2 separate regions of the Homo sapiens genome follow, and region 2 is linked to region 1. The links come from fine-mapping of genetic effects on gene expression. Tissue or cell type: hypothalamus. Region 1 holds a variant in brackets; the other region holds the start of a gene. All regions are shown on one strand. Distances are between the middles of the regions.

Evidence for each region. PIP is the estimated chance that this variant, and not a neighbour inherited with it, causes the effect.
Region 2: TMEM8B starts here. The variant in region 1 is fine-mapped to the expression of TMEM8B in hypothalamus (GTEx, PIP 0.99). The same link has a PIP of 0.9 or more in spinal cord.

The regions. Positions count from the first base shown.
Region 1 is chr9:35,847,572-35,855,672 of GRCh38, forward strand. TMEM8B (transmembrane protein 8B) reads left to right here. Exons shown (of 13, transcript NM_001042590.4): 11 at 5,256-5,402; 12 at 5,570-5,686; 13 at 5,934-8,101. The coding sequence ends at 6,269. Among named protein-coding and RNA genes, the nearest start is that of OR13J1, 19 kb to the right of the region's middle. RefSeq lists enhancers at 474-613, 804-873, 904-1,023. The variant C/T (reference allele first, on the strand shown) is at 3,480.
Region 2 is chr9:35,824,867-35,832,967 of GRCh38, forward strand. It overlaps TMEM8B (transmembrane protein 8B), which reads left to right and starts at 4,362. Exons shown (of 13, transcript NM_001042590.4): 1 at 4,362-5,089. The coding sequence starts at 4,582. It overlaps FAM221B (family with sequence similarity 221 member B), which reads right to left and starts at 3,866. Exons shown (of 7, transcript NM_001012446.4): 1 at 3,597-3,866; 2 at 698-1,295; 3 at 364-507. The coding sequence starts at 1,295. RefSeq lists enhancers at 1,231-1,590, 4,954-5,454 and a silencer at 4,219-4,668.

The DNA of each region.
Region 1 (8,101 bases):
AGAGGGGATCTCTCTATTGGGGGATTATAGGACAATCTGACTCTCAGAGTCCTGAGAAGCTTTACAGACTCAACTATGTCCTGAGGCATTGTCGGAAGTGGCAGTGTCATATCACATCCCAGCTCAAAGGAGTGCATTTTGATGAAGATTAATATAGTTTAAAACCCCTCCATTCCCATTGCAGAATTGCCACAATCTCTTTCCTGTGTTTTCCTCACTCCTCCATAATCAGAAAAGTTCATTATAAGCAAGCGTCCAGAAACTATAAGGAAAGGTAGAGAAGTGAGCCTGCTAATGTTACTTAACCCCCAAGTAGACTTTTTACCCCTGAAGTGTCACATCTGGGAATCTTTTCAACTCATCTCTAGGCTCTTGGCACCATGTGACATGCATGTGAGCACTGCAAAAACTCTTAGATGGTTTCAGACTGCTCAGGCCTTGTCAGCAAGGATATCACAGAAAGCAAGACAGGCCTTCCTGGCATCCTGCATTACTAGGTCAGACATATGTCTAAATTAGAAAAATCATAGTTCTCATCTGGGAGAAAGCAGGGGCAAATGTGCTGAAACTGAGGGGCCTGGGTCCTCCTGGAGATTCATCCAGAGATGAGGAAGAAGAGTCTGCAACCATGCTGCAGAGAGAGATCTTGGCCCTTTAAGCTGGGTGAGAAGCATATACCCCAGTTTTGCTTGATTGGCCCCTTTTTAGGCCTGCCCCCACAGTGCCTCATTCTATTTTTATGTTAGACACTGTTTCTCTTTCGTATTGCCAGATGCCCTTTCTACTGTGGCTCACCAAATCCTCCAGCAACAGCTGTTCTACCAGCCCACTCTCGGCTACATGCAGATCGAATGTGATTCATAATTAGTAAGAATACCTAAGTGTGTCAGGAGCCTGAAGCATGTAGGGAGAGCATATTCACTCTCTGGACTTGACACAAGTATCCTGATTGGCTCCAGAGTGTTCAGTGCTAGATGACTCTTCCTTATCTGGATACAGTGGCTGTCAGCCTGAAAAGACCTTCCCTGTAGCAGGAGTACTAGGAGAGCCTCAAGTGCCTGGCACCACATAAAAAGCTCCCGGTTTCTTTCTTTGTTTTTTTTCTTTTTTTTTTTTTTTTTGAGACAGAGTCTTGCTGTGTTGCCCAGGCTGGAGTGCAGTGGCGCGATCTTAGCTCACTGCAACCTCCGCCTCCCAGGTTCAAGCGATTCTCCTGCCTCAGCCTCCTGAGTAGCTGGGACTACAGGCGCATGCCACCACACCTAGCTAATTTTTGTATTTTTAGTAGAGACAGGATTTCACCATGTTGGCCAAGTTGGTCTCGATCTCCTGACCTCGTGAACCACCCACCTTGGCCTCCCAAAGTGCTGGGATTACTGGTGTGAGCCACTGCGCCGGGCCAAAATCTCACATTTTCTTAAATAAGGCAATAAGGAAAAGCTACTGGCTTTGAGTTGTTGCCTAAAGTCCTGCTCTCACTCCTGTTCTTTTCCACATGGGCCAGAACATAAAACTATGTTTTCTGTTTTCCCTGCAGGTTCTCTGTGGTCCCTCCTTGCCATTCGTAGACTTATTTCATTCTGCAGCAGTGTCCATTTAAGGACCCATTGGTCAAATTGCAGTTGTCAGTACTAGGACAGGAGATAACAGTCCTCTTCCTTGTCTTCAAATAATCCAGGACAGTCTACACTTGGGAGTAGTAATCCATTCTTATCTGGAACATAGGAGCAGACAGTAGGTTTATAATTCAGGAGTTTACAGATGTAAAATATGTTTTGAAAAAACAAAAACAGGCCACAAACTTAGCATTTGATTTTTGTATATAGGCAAACAATTCAGATAATGATTACAACAAAATGACATACACTGAATATGTGCTGTTTCAGACACTGCTAATTTAATCCTCACAATAGTACTGTTATAGTTGATACATGCTTTTATTCTTGTCATCCTTTTTTTGTAGATAAGGGAAAGTTAAATATTTTGCCTGAGGTAGAAGGTGAGTATCTACCTTAGAATCTGGGTGAGCCTGACTCCAGATCCCTCACATGTAACAGATGATATTGCTCCCTTTGCACCAGGGCAGTGAGCATGCATTGATATGCTTTTAACCCAACTTCAGTTTCTCTTAAGTCCTGGAGTATGTAGAAAAAGGCATGGCCCCAGTTTAGTAGTTCTCACCAAATTCTTAAAAGATAAGAGCCGATCAAGAGATCTGAAAATACAACTAAGCCAAATATAAGAAACCATCAGGACAAAGATATCAAACATTTTAATTGTGCAACTTGAACCCGTACTGTTCAAACTGTGTATCCATCACAGTGCTCCTTGAATCCTTGTAATTAGATCTCAGAAGACCCAGACAGAGCTGGCATTCTGGGGCTGTGCAGGTGTCCTTGCTGATTGCTGGCATCCTGGCTACAAGCCCACCTTCTCATTACGCCTTATATCCCTCAGACCATCCCAGGTCATTCTCACTGTCTCTTGGCAAAATCCCATAACTGTTTCCAAGAGAAAATGAAAGCAGAAAACAGGAAATAAGGGAGTAACAGCAAGTTCCATTATATTCCAATCTGGGCATGGATTAACTACGTTTGCGTTTATAGTCCACATTCTGCAGTGCCTGGATAGCCCATTTTGGAGCATTAGATGCACTGTTACAAAAATGTAAAATTCCACAGAAAAAAAACCTTGCAGGATAATTTCCCTACATTGCTTCATAAATAATGGCCAAAGCTGAGAAAGTTATCAACTTAGATTAGAATTATATTAATAGAAGTCAGTTTGTAGTCTAATTTTTTTTTCTTAAATTCCCTGATTTTTCTATGTCACTTCTACTTCTTTTTATTGCTGTTGACAAAAGGAATGCCAATCTAAAAATTAGTCCACGGTTTTTAGTGGACTAATTCCCTCACACTACAATTTTAATTTAACTCTACCCCTGTGGATTTTTCACAACCTTAAACAATCTCTTTGACCTTTTAGTATACCTGGAAAATAATTAGTCGTAAAATATTAGTGAAATGATTTCTTCAAATCCTCTCCACTCTAGAGATAATATCTCCATTTTTCTTTATTCTTCTTTTAGTGCAAATTCCTAGGAGAAAGTCAGCCCTCAATTATTCCCCTAGATGTGTCTTCAATGTTTAGTGATTCAGCTTTGCCTTTTTTCTGCTGATATATATCTTCCTTTGTCTGAAATATAGTACAAATCTCTCTCCCAGAAACTTCTGGGTATTTCTTTCTATATACTTGAAAGTGAAGCATATGGAGCCAGTGCTTGGTTAAGGCTGGATGTAAAATTAGTTCTTTAAAATAAAATCCAAGTCATAAAACAGTATTGGGTAATTTAGTGGCCTATAGTACTTATGTCTGGTCTTGGAGGCAAAGAATAATCAATTTCCTATAGCTAAAATAGAAAAAGACCAATATATTGATTTGTTTAGGAACTAAATTAACTCCCAATGAATCAGCACATA[C/T]AAATAGTTGAAAAATAAACCAGTCTCTTAGGTGTATTCAAACATTAATTACTTAACCATTTTTATTTATTTATTTATTTTTGAGGGTCTCGTTCTGTCACCCAGGGCAGAGTGCAGTGGCATGATCACAGCTCAGTGCAGTCTTGACCTGGGCTCAAGCAATCCTCCCACCTCAGCCCCTTCTGCCCCCCACCCCCGCCAATTCCCTGTTCCCCACCAAGTAGCTGGGACTATAGGCACACGCTACCGTGCCCAGCTAATTTTTGTGTGTTTTGTAGAGATGGGGGTTTCACCATGTCGCCCAGGCTGGTCTTTAACTCCTGGGCTCAAGTGATCTGCCCACCTCATCCTCCCAAAGTGCTGGGATTAACAGGCGTGAGCCACTGCACCCAACCTAAAAAAATTCATTCTAATGTTGATATGGACCTACATGAAAAGTCTGAAAATTTCCCATTGAGAACTCACTTTTTCAATTTAACAGTATATTAAGAGGGAACCATGTCCCCAAAATAACAAGCCCTTTCGAAAGCCTGGAACACCCACTTAAAACATGTTCATCCTTAGGCAGTCTCTTTTTGCAGGAGCAAAATTCTTTACCTCCAAAGTGAAGGAAAAGAAAGAAGATAGATACGCAAGCTTGAGTCTTGCAGCTTAAAATTTAAAGGAATCAAACCCAAAGTTTCCTGATGCCAATTTATATCCCAGGTTTTCGTCTTCATTTTGTTTTCTTTTTCTAAGATCCTAGCTTCTTCCTTTCCAAATTTGTCTGTTGAAGTTGTAATTTTTGCAGTTTAAATGATTGGATGACATCTTCAGTAGGGTCAAAGGAAACATTAGCGATTTCTTTTTCATCTTTTGTCTCTAGAGACTGACTTTGGAATATGTTTTCCAGATTTTTTGGTGGCATCTCTGCCACTAAAGAGTTATGCCTAGAAAACTTTTTTCACAAATAAGGGAACACAGGATGCTGGAAGCCATGGCATTGTCCAGAGAGACAATCTGGACATGGGTTGGAACTACAGACAAGGGAGCTAATGGCAGACTTTGCTTGGTTCCTTAATTAGGATGTCCAGTTGAGTCTGATCCGATTCCACTTCTGCTCCCTGCATCCCCTTTGAACCTCCTCAATAGTCCACTCTTCACTATGTTCTCCAGAGTGTAGGATGGGTGGACACTGTCCCCTCTCCATGTTCTTCCCCATGGTGTGAAGTGCCATGCCTCTCTCCATGGCCTTAGGGACTGCCTTTTTTCTTACCTGCCACACACTCCCCGCATTTGTTGGGAAGGGATGAAGAGGGTCAGTTGGTGGAAGCCCTGAGAGTGAAGCCCAGTTCAGAGTCTGAGCTAGCAGGGGAAACTGGGACATAGTGGGGAGATTTGGTTTCTGGGTAGCTTAGAGCTTGGGCCAGGGATGGGGATTATAGGTGGGATCCATGGTGAGCATGAGGAGACAGGGACAGGATTGGCCTCAGCTTGAGGGTATCAGAACCCCCTGGCAGGGCACTCTCCACAGCACCTTCCAGAAGCAGGAAGATTAGGAAGCTCAGGGTCAGGGTCAGGGCTGCCAGATACATATTAGTTATGTAGCAGACTGGACCTCCTTACCACATTCTTCTCAGGATTTGGGGAGTCAGGCATTTCCCAGATCTTCTCATCTGTGACCTTTCACCTCTGCTGCACTGACAGCAGCACACCACCCCTGGGCCCACCCCTCCGGTTTTGTAGATCTGGACCTCTGCCTCAAGTTCTCTCAATGCCTGTCATTTCTTCCTTCAGTTCTATCATGCCTGTGACCAGCCAGGCATCGTGGTTTTCTGCATCATGGACTACGATGTGCTGCAGTTCTGTGATTTCCTGGGCTCCTTAATGTCCGTGTGGGTCACTGTCATTGCCATGGCTCGTTTACAGCCCGTGGTCAAGCAGGTCAGTCCAGAGTGGGCCCTGGGGAACAACCATGGCCAAGTCTCCTTGAAATCCACTCCTGACCTCTCCCTGGGGGCATTTCCAAGTGCCTCTCATGATTCTGACCCAGGCCCTGGAGTGCTGTCTGTCACCTGGCCCTAGCCCAGCCCTTGAGTCTCTTTCTCTAGGTGCTGTATTTGCTGGGAGCTATGCTGCTGTCCATGGCTCTGCAGCTTGACCGACATGGACTCTGGAACCTGCTTGGACCCAGTCTCTTCGCCCTGGGGATCTTGGCCACAGCCTGGGTAAGGGTGGGGAGGGATGTGGGGGGAGGGTCCCAGCAGGACTTGGGTGCTGGGCCCCAGGTATCTGGTCCCCAGTTTAAGGTGGGCTTGGCTCTGTCGTCATCACCTGCTGCTGGCAGTGTCCGCTCCAGTCTTGGCAGGTGTCTTTAGGTCACAACCAGGATACAGAGGAAACCTGAGAGTGACCAGCTCTGGCTTGGGTTCCAGGGCTTGGCATTCCTGAGCCCCACTTCTCTGTCTCCCCCAGACAGTACGCAGCGTCCGCCGCCGGCACTGCTACCCACCCACGTGGCGCCGCTGGCTTTTCTACTTGTGCCCTGGCAGCCTTATTGCAGGCAGTGCCGTCCTGCTTTATGCTTTTGTGGAGACCCGGGACAACTACTTCTACATTCACAGCATTTGGCATATGCTCATTGCGGGCAGTGTGGGCTTCCTGCTGCCCCCTCGTGCCAAGACTGACCACGGGGTCCCATCTGGAGCCCGGGCCCGGGGCTGTGGTTACCAGCTATGCATCAACGAGCAGGAGGAGCTGGGCCTCGTGGGCCCAGGAGGGGCCACTGTCAGCAGCATCTGTGCCAGCTGAGAGGGGCTTTGGGCCTGGCCCTGAGGGGATATGAATGCTTCCTAGAGTTCTTTCTGGGGGTGTGGAGCCCTCTTAGAAGGAGACAGGCTGTATTTCTTGAGGACATGGAGTCTTTCTCAAGGACACAAAACTCTTCCAGGGACCTGGAGCCCTTCCCAGGACATGGAGAACTTCCTGAGGGCCTGGAGTCCCCCTGCATCATGGAGTCCTTCTTAAGGACTGGAGCCTATGCAGGCACAGAGTCCCTCAGGACCAAGGAGTCCCTCCTGCAGGTGTGGAGCCTTTCCTGGGATGCAGAGCCTTCCCAAGACATGGATTCCTTCCCAGGGAGACAAAGCCCTGTCAGGAGCACAGCATCTTTCCAGAGGAGGTGGAGTCTATCTTGGGGAAACCAAATTTCCAGATTTTCCCAGAGGCTCAGCAACTCTGGCCTCAGGCTTCCTTCCCAGAGGCAGCGTCTGGGCTGTGCTGTGCTGTGGAGGAGGGATTGCAGGATGGATGGAGCTGGGACTGGGGCTGTCTGGGTGGCTGGTATCCTCGTTTGATACAGGTGGAGTCTGTGTGTCTCCAGTGATTGATTGGTTCAGAATGGTTCTGTGATGCCTTTTTTCCCCCTGGGGTCAGGGGTGTGGGGAAGTGGGGAAAGAGGGCCCCTCAGGGAATCAGCAGGGCTGATGGGAGCTACTGCCGGAGGCTTTTGTCACACCCTGTACACAGTCTGATCCCGCTCATCTGGGCCCTGCATTCATTTCTAAACAGTTTCTAATGCCTATTCCCCAATTCCTATTGAGCCCGATTTGCAGTATCTGAGGGGTGTGTGTGTGTGTGTGTGTGTTTATGTATGTATACGTATGCTGAGATGATTTAAATCAGTGAGACAGACTTTCCTTATGATGCCCACACCCAACACAGAAGGAAGCCGAGGTCCCAGGAAATTGGAATAGCAGGTACACGTCTCAGGTGTGCAAGAAATATCACAAGAATGTAACTTCTGTTTTGAGCCCCCATTTTTCCTGAGTGCCAGAAAAGATCATTTGTCCATTTGGGATTCCTTCTCTTTCCATGAGGGTCATAGCTGAGTTCTGAGGGTCTTACATAATGCCAAGAAGTTGGGAGAGCATTCTCACTGATCACCAGTGTCCATACTTCATCCATCCCCGGGATTTCCATCATTCCATCTGGTCCCCAGTCAGAGGTCCAGACAGTTCATCTGGGATGCAGAGAGATTTCTTGTTCCCATTTGCATTACTCTCTCAGTCCTAAGGTTCTCTCTGCCACTTCTGGGCCATATGTGGAGACCCGTAAAGTTGTCTAAGGCCTTGGCTATGCAGACACACCTTGAAGCTGTTTCTGCTCTGGGTTTTGACAGACAAGGCATGAGTTGCTGCATCTGTTAAAACTGCAAATCTATCTTGGCCTGGGGTGTGGAGCTCAGGGACTCTTCCTTTTGGGACCCTCTGTGTCAGTATTCTCACTACATCCTCTCCTCCTCTCTCTTCTTTCCCCCTTTCGTTAATATTGGAGGTGAGGAAGCCTTACTTAATGTTTTCTCCTGAATCTTTTTTTTTTTGAGACGGAGTTTTGCTCTTGTTGCCCAGGCTGGAATGCAATGGTGCGATCTCAGCTCACTGCAACCTCTGCCTCCCGGGTTCAAGTGATTCTCCTGTCTCAGCCTCCCGAGTAGCTGGGATTAGAGGTGTGCACCACCAAGCCCAGCTAATTTTTGTATTTTTAGTAGAGATGGGGTTTCTCCATGTTGGTCAGGCTGCTCTCAAACTCCCGGCCTCAGGTGATCCACCCGCCTCGGCCTCCCAAAGTGCTGGGATTACAGT
Region 2 (8,101 bases), 23 kb before region 1:
GAGACGGGGTTTCATCGTGTTACCCAGGACAGTCTCGATCTCCTGACCTCGTGATCCGCCCATCTCGGCCTCCCAAAGTGCTGGGATTACAGGCGTGAGCCACCGCGCCCAGCCGACCCTTCTGTGTTTAATAATTTTAGTTCAGCTACCTGTCTCTACCTGGGCTTTATATGAATCTCCCCACTTTTTGTCTGCATCCACCCTTGTATTCCTTGGCCCACTTGCCTGCTCCTTTTCCAGGCAGGTGGTATAGCCATTTCCAAAAGGGGAAGCTATCTGCTGAATGTTCAGGTTCCCAGATCTTTTGGATTAGAGGATGCCCATGGGCCTGTCACAGGCCTCTGAAAGGCCACATGGGCTCACCTGTCTGGATGGCATTCAGGGCTGCATCCTTCTCCCACTGGAAAAGATTGTTCACTTGAGCACCAAACTCCTCTCTATGCATTGCCTTAGCCACTTCCACCAGCTCTGTCTGCCTAGCAGGGAACACTGGGCGGGCTGTGTTACCTAGGATGGGAGAGGATGAGTAACCAGGGGGAAGTGAGAAGGCCCTAAAACTAAGAGAAGGGGCCATGTCCAAGAGTAACCCAGTCTCCTCCTCCTGGGGCAAGTCAAGGACAGTGAATAGTAGTGAGAACAGGACAGGGGAGAGGACAGGTACAATTACAGCTAACTCCTTTCTTCTTCTTCTTCTTGCCTAGTTGGTGTCCAGGTTGGGCTGTGTGAGCAGTGCTGTCACTGGCATCTACTCCCTTTTCAACCTCTCCTGCTTCTTCCTCCTGCTTTTCGGTTGTGTCCACTTGGACCTGGGATGAAGGGCCTGAAAGACAGTGTTCTGGAAGGCTCTCAGATTCAGAGAGATGGGTAGACCTCCTTGTCCATGGGACCTCATTGGAAGAAGACTCAGAGGAGAGGTCTTCCTTCAGAGTATCAGAAGAAGACAGACAGACATAGTCTCGTGATTGGGGAGGAAGAGTAAGGTGTTTCTCTGGCACCACTGAGATGGGACTATCCAATGAAGCCTCATAGGTAGGGGTCTCTGAAGGAGTCTCAGAGATGGAAGGCTCCTGATGGGTTTCAGGGGAATGGGCCTCTAAGGGGATCTGGGAAGGGGATGGCACCAAAGGGGATTCAGAGGTATGGGGCTCTAACGGGGTCTCAGAGGTGGAAGGCTTCAAGAAGCTTTCAGAGATATGGTTCTCCTGTAAGTCCTCAGCAGAGGGGTCCTTTGAAGGGGGGTGCTTCTCTGCATCCATGGTGATATGAGGCTCTTCTATGATCTCATGTGCTTCCATCTAGTGGTAGAACAGGGTACAGGCTTCATTAGGTTGGAAATAGAGGGCCGGCAAGTCAGGGCAGAGCCCAGGGTTCGCAGTGCATTATGGAATTTGGATAAGGATATCAGTGCAGCTGAGATATAAGAGGGAAACAACATGAACTCTGGGTCCTAGAGTGTGATGCCAAAAGGTTCACCCATGTGTCCAGACCTCATATGGCATGCTGCTGTGGCTTGTTAGGGAGCTGGAACTTAAAGATTGAAAGACTGAAGTAGTTCGAATCCCATCAGTAGATGGTAGCAGAGAACCATGTCCCAGGAGGGAGTCTGAACAACACCACTTGGGCAGTCCAAGAGCAGGGTCCTTGGCATATCTTAAAACCCTGGAGGTCAGACCATGGAGTTCTAGAGACTGGCAATACCAAGCCAAAGTTGGGGTTGGCTCCTGAGAGTGCAGGGGAATGCTGTCACATAAGGCAAGACACTGCACGCAGCCTGGTTTTGTCTAGGCACCACACACATCCTCCTCCCTTAATGATGTCATTCATGTTCAAAGCTTTAACTACTTCCAGTTGTGTACCAATGACTCCTAAATTCACATTTCTAGCTCAGACCTTTTTCAACCTCTGTACTTCACACTCATACCCACCTGCCTGCTGGCCTTCTCTTCTCTTCTCTTTTTGTGATGGAGTCTCGCTCTGTTGCCCAGACTGGAGTGCAGTGGCGCAATCTCGGTTCACTGCAACCTCCGCCTCCCGGGTTCAAGTGATTCTCCTGCCTCAGCCTCCCAAGTAGCTGGAATTACAGGCGTGTGCCACCATGCCCGGCTAAGTTTTATATTTTTAGTAGAGACGGGGTTTCACCATGTTGGTCAGGCTGGTCTTGAACTCCTGACCTCAGGTGATCTGCCCTGCTTGGCCTCCCAAAGTGCTGAGATTACAGGAGTGAGCCACCGTGCTTGGCCCCTGCTGGTCATTTCTAACTGAGTGTTTCCACAGACAGCAAAACTGAACTTTGGGAATTATCCTAGTCTTTTCCTTTTCCCTTAGACTCCATCTTCAAATAGGCACCAATAACTCTATTTCCTATCTTCTAAATATTCCCCAAATGCATTCTCTCCTCTCCCTTCCAATTTTATTCAAGTTCTCATCATCTTCAGCCTTTGTGTAATAACTTTGCCCCTCTACTTCCATCCACAGCATTTTAATCCATTCACCCATTCTTTCATGGATTTATGTAACTTATACTTTTACAATGAGCCTAATCTGATGCTTTTACTGACCCGCTGTGCTAAGCTCTAGATTGAGTTGAGTCTAGGAGAGAGACCGATTAACCAACAATGGCAATACAAATAAATTGATGTTGTTCTGGGGTGAGTCTAGGATACGGTGGGGAGGGGGATATACCTAATTTATCCTGCAAGGATGTAGTCCTCCTTCCTGACCCAATCAGGATCTTTCTAAAGTGCAAGCCCAACAACTGGCACTTTGTGGCTTAAAAACATTCCATGACTCAGTCTAAAGGATTAAGTCCAAATTTCTTGGCCCTGGCATTCAAGGCCTGTCATCATTTTCAACACAGCCTGAGGATTCCTGCCTTAACTTTCCGTGCTCCCTACTTTACCCCCATGTTCCAGAGACGCTAGATATATCACTCCTTAAATGCATCAGAGCCTTTTTGAAGGGGATGTTTGGGAAGGGAATTAGGGGCAGAGGTAGGATTACAGGGAGGAAGATGACCAGAGTCAGCTAGAGAGAAAAGGGGCCTAAGAGTGGAGAACCAGAAGATGGGAGGTGAGGAAGGGGAAAGAGAAGGGGAGGAGGAAATTGGGTGGAGGAGGAGAGTAAGGATGAAAAGTACAGAATGTGGGCCAGGCATGGTGGCTCATGCCAGTAATCCCAGAATTTGGGAGGCCAAGGCGGGTGGATCACTTGAGGTCAGGAGTTCGAGACCAGCCTGGCCAACATGGTGAAACCCAGTCTCTACTAAAAATACAAAAATTAGCTGGGCATGGTGGCAGGCGCCTGTAGTCCCAGCTACTGGGGAGGCTGAAGCAAGCAAATCACTTGAACCTGGGAGGCGGAGGTTGCAGTGAGCCCAGATCGCACCACTGCACTCCAGCCTGGGGGACAGAGCGAGACTCTGTCTCAAACAACAACAACAACAACAACAACAACAACAACAACAACAACTACTACTACTACTACTACTACTACTACTACTACTACTACTACTACAACAATGTGAAGGGACTGAGGGGTGGGAGAAAGACAGATGTCTTTGAGGGAAGAGGGCAAGGGCCGTTGGAGAAACCACCTACCCTCTGGGCTTTGGCTTGGTTGTTACAAGTCCTTAGGTCAAGACCTTGACTTAGGATGGCAGGGGGAGGTGTTGATCCTCAGGGAGGAAAGGCTCTTGGTTGTGGATGTGCCTCAGCTGCAGGTGCTGAGTGTTGAAATGCCTTGCCTGAAAGTCTGCTATCTGGGAAGGGGACTTGGATATCTGCAGAACTTCGCAAAGGAGCTCTGGCATGACCTGGGGAAGTGGGTAGGGACAAGGGGTCTAGGGCCAATGAGGGAGGGTCTTGACTGAAGCCTCCGGAACCCGGGCCAGGAGAGTAGGCGCCGGTCACCAGGGCAACCGGAACGCCTAGTAGTCTCCGTGGCAACGGCGGTCTGGTCACCTCCCCGGTGGGTAAGGTCTCCTGAGGGGCTTGCATTGGGCCTCGAGGGGGCGAGCCCAGAGGGTTTACTTCTGAAAAGTGGGGTGTGTGTTGCGGGATCTCTGTGAGCGAGTGTTTGGGTAGGATCTGCGGAGATCTGTGCGTACGTCCGGGGGAGTCTGGGATTGTGAGGATAGGGTTCCTTTGAGACATCTGTGGGGCGGTCGTTGGGGGCTGTGAGGATCTGAGGGGACCTCGGGCTCTGTGCTTGGGGTGAGAAAGGCAGGGTCTCGGGTAGCTGAGGCGGGGGCGGAGTCTGTGTGTCCTCGAAGCCCAGCAGGACTAAGTTGGGGACCAATAGAGTAGGGCGGGGGCGGGCTTTACTGACAGGGACCAATCGAGCCGGCCGGGGGGCGGGGCGTCACGCCGACGTCAAGTCGAGGCCGCCGCCGCGGGGCCTGGTTATCGCCGGTTCAGCGCAGCCCGGAGTCGCCCAGGCCTGAACTCCTACCCAGGTCCCCGGCCCCCGCCCCGGGCCCGCGAGGACACCGGAGGCCACCCCCCGGGGGTGGGGAGCGGAGCCGCGGGCCAGCTCTGCGAGCGCCCCGCGCTGGCCTGTCCGGCCCCGCCCCCGCCCCGGGCCATGGCCCAGCCCTTGTCCCGGCCCCTCGTCCTATCCCAATCCCCGCCTTGGCCCCCAGCCCCGCCCTCGCCCCGCTTCCCACATCGGCCCCAGCCCCTGCCTGGGTCCCCATCCAGGACCCCCTTCCAGTCTCTGCCCCTGGCCTGGCCCCCATCCCGGCCTCGGCCCTCGTTCCACCCCCTGTCACAAATCCCAGCCCAGGCCCTGTCCCAGCCCCATTCCCAGTGTTTGCTTAAGGCCCTGGCTCAACCCCGTCCCTTGCTGCAGTCCCCATCACAGCCCTTCCTTCCATCCCACTCCCTGCCCTTGTTCAAGCCCCAGTGTCCAGCCCAGCCCAACCCATTATCTCAGCCTTTGCCCTCATCTCTGTGTTTACCCAAGTCTCTCCCTCTAGTCCCCCCTATCTCTCATACTCTGCCCCTCTCCCAGCCTAGACTCAAGTCTGGGTTTCAGCTGCCGCCAGCCCTATTGCTGCTGTTGCTGTTCTCTGTCCTTGGCCCAGGGGCTGGTGAGTGCAGAAGCAGGGAAGATTGAGGCAGGAATGGGGTTCCGGCAGGGAGGGGTGGGCTGGAGAGATTCAGGAGAGGTGGGACCTGGGGAACTAGATCATTGGGGAGCAAGTGGGAGAAATAGAGAGTAGAGAGGTCTTACACAACAGGGATTGGCAGGGTCAAAAGAGTGGTAATTAATTGGGTTTGAGGCTCAGCAGGTGGCTTACAGTTTCTAGCACAGAGACTCCAAGATTTTTTCTGGTGTCTGTCCTGACCCCACTTTGACTCTTGCTTTTCCAGGGAAATGTTGTGGGCTTTGCTCCTGCTCACAAAGTTTGATGGGGGAGAGACAGTCCCACACCAGAAGCCCCTAGTGTAGTGTGGGAATATATAGCCCAAACCTTTGAGATATTGGGCATGCATTCAAACGGCATGAAGAAGAGTTTTAAAGATAATATGTAGCAAATAGATGAATATGGATTAGTTGCCATTATAATGAGTTTTCTTCTTGTAATGATTCTTGTTCCAAAGAAGATTGATTTGCCTAGGAATAATTCCTGATACTTTTAGAGCAGGGCTGAAACTCGGAGGCTATTTTACAGATGGGGAAACTGAGGCTCAGGGAGGGAGCAATTTGTCCAAAGTCAGAGAGCTTGTGAATGGCAGTGTGCTGGGGCTAGAAAAAAGGTTTCCTAATTCCTATTTCATACTAGTGTGTTTTTTTTTATCCACTGCAATGTATACTTAATAGAAAAATAGACCCAAGTGGGGAAAGGCTCAAAGCATAACCTCCCTTCTCCCCGGTCTGCCCACAAGGGTGCTTTATCCACAAACTGTTCCTTATTTGCCAGGCGTCAGCCAAGGGCCACCCTCCGGTGGGGAAGTGACTTGGACAGAAGAGAGAGAGGTCCAATTTTTTAATGGTTGGAATGTGGGAGGAGGAGGGGGTGTCCTGGTCTAGGGGATGTGCCATGAAGATGGCTCCATCATGGAGTGACTGTAGTCTTCATGGCCCAAGTCTGTAGCCACCTCTGGTGGGTGTCACTCTAGATAGGATGGAGATGTGCCTGATGGAGTCTTTGGAAATAACAGCCAACAGAACAGCTGGGGGGTGGAGAATGGGTATCAGTGAGCTCTGGGGGCCTGGTTCAGTGTACAAACTTAAGGAGACGAATGCACGTGAAAGGTCACAACCCCTGCAGAGATGTCTGGTCACTTATGTGTATGTGTGTAACTGAGGGATTGTGGGGAGGCTGGCAGCATGTGTACATGCTTGTGTGTTGTTAAGTGTAGACACGTGCATGTGTGTGGGGTGCATGTGAGCCAGTGTATCTTCTGAGCGCCTGTGTTATGGTATGAAGGGGAGGGGACATGTTGTGGCCCATGTACATTCCTCTTCAGCTCTGCCTCCTCCTCATATGGACAGATCACTGAAGCTGTGAATGGGGCTGGAGACCCTTTCTCAGCAGTTCCAAGGGTGAGGGCAGTGTTGCATGCCTCCCATAACGAATATAAGTTATCCATCCATCCCCAGCCAGTGCCTTTGAAGGAAGGAGCTGTGGAGGCACTCTGTGTTGATTACTGCTGCTGGCAAATTGGACACTGGGCAGAGGCAGTAGCCAGTCAGGTTTTCAGTTTTGGTAAGGGGAAGTTTATGCTGTTGGGCCAAGTTCCTAGCTTCCATCCTCTGCCATCATGGCTTCTTCATGTGCCCATTGAGCAAGCATTGGGCTGGTGAGGGGAGCAGGGTGACCGACAGCCACAGAGCATATACAGCTGAAAGTTGTGGATAAAAACACTGTTGCCCAGAAGCAGGTTCAGGTGCTTTGGGGAGAATTGTAATGAAGTTGGAAAAGAGTACCAATACACCCAAATGGAGGCAGGGCTGCCTTTAGTGCTGTTAATAATGAATGCCTTGGCAATTTTGGACCAAAGTACAGGGTGCTCTGTGACCTAATGGTGGTGATGGGTTTTGTCTGAGGAGAGGCTGGCAGTGTCATAGGACCATCATGGCACAGGGCTGCACAGTGCTTATTGGTTGCTTCGGTTTCATTTCAGGAATGGAAGTTATCTCTTGGGTCTAGTGGTCCCACTCCTGATCCTTGGATCTTTTCCTTGGGCTTAGTTGAGGACTCACACGTGCCTTGCTATTCAAAAAAAAATGGGCTTTTATTCTACCTAGTGCTATTACTAGCAGGGCCAGCCTCAGCCTATGTGTGTAGGTGTAGGGGTGTGTGTGTGTGTGTGTGTGTGTGTGTGTGTATGTGTATGTGTGTATGGGGTGGGTGATGGTCGGAATTACCCTAGCTTCATCATAGAAATATTGGGGAACCTGGAATAAGTTCATCTGAACTCGGTAAGGGCCTTACTCATGCTTCTTCTGGACACAGCTCTGGTAGGCCCTGTTCAAACCGCAAACCAAAGTTTGGAGTGAATGGGGCTGTGGACCCTTTCTCAAGCATCTGCCCTCAGAACTTCTTCCAAGTTCCTCCTAGCATTCCCAGCTGCTGCTCACTCCTTTATCTCACTGGCCTATTCTGTGACCTCTGTAGCCCCTGGCCACTGTGGGGATGGCTTAGCTAGTTCCCCAGTTCCCCAGGCCATACTGTGATCCTTTGAATTACAAGGATCTTTGTGCTTGTCTGTCCATGTTTCCCAAAGGTCATTAAACTGCTTTTCACCACTAGCCCTCATCTGAGGGTCTGCACCGAGGGACTGACCAACATTTCTCCTAACGGTAGCAATGGTTGATCAGATGACCCATCCCTGGTACCAGCTTTGAGGAGGATCAGCCCTTCCCTAACCCCAGCAGAAGGTGCGCTAGAGTTCTGATTTCTTCTAACAATAGTATCCAGGCTGTTCACCTCTTAGCCTTCTGCCTCCTACTTAGCACAGCTAGGGTTCCTAGGAAACCCGTCTCTTCCATCAGTCGGTCCCATTTCCCTTTATCCCTCTCGGCTGCATCTCTATCACTCTCTGAATGCTGCACTGGTAGCCTCTCTGGGTTCCTAGGCAGTGCTCAGCTTGCA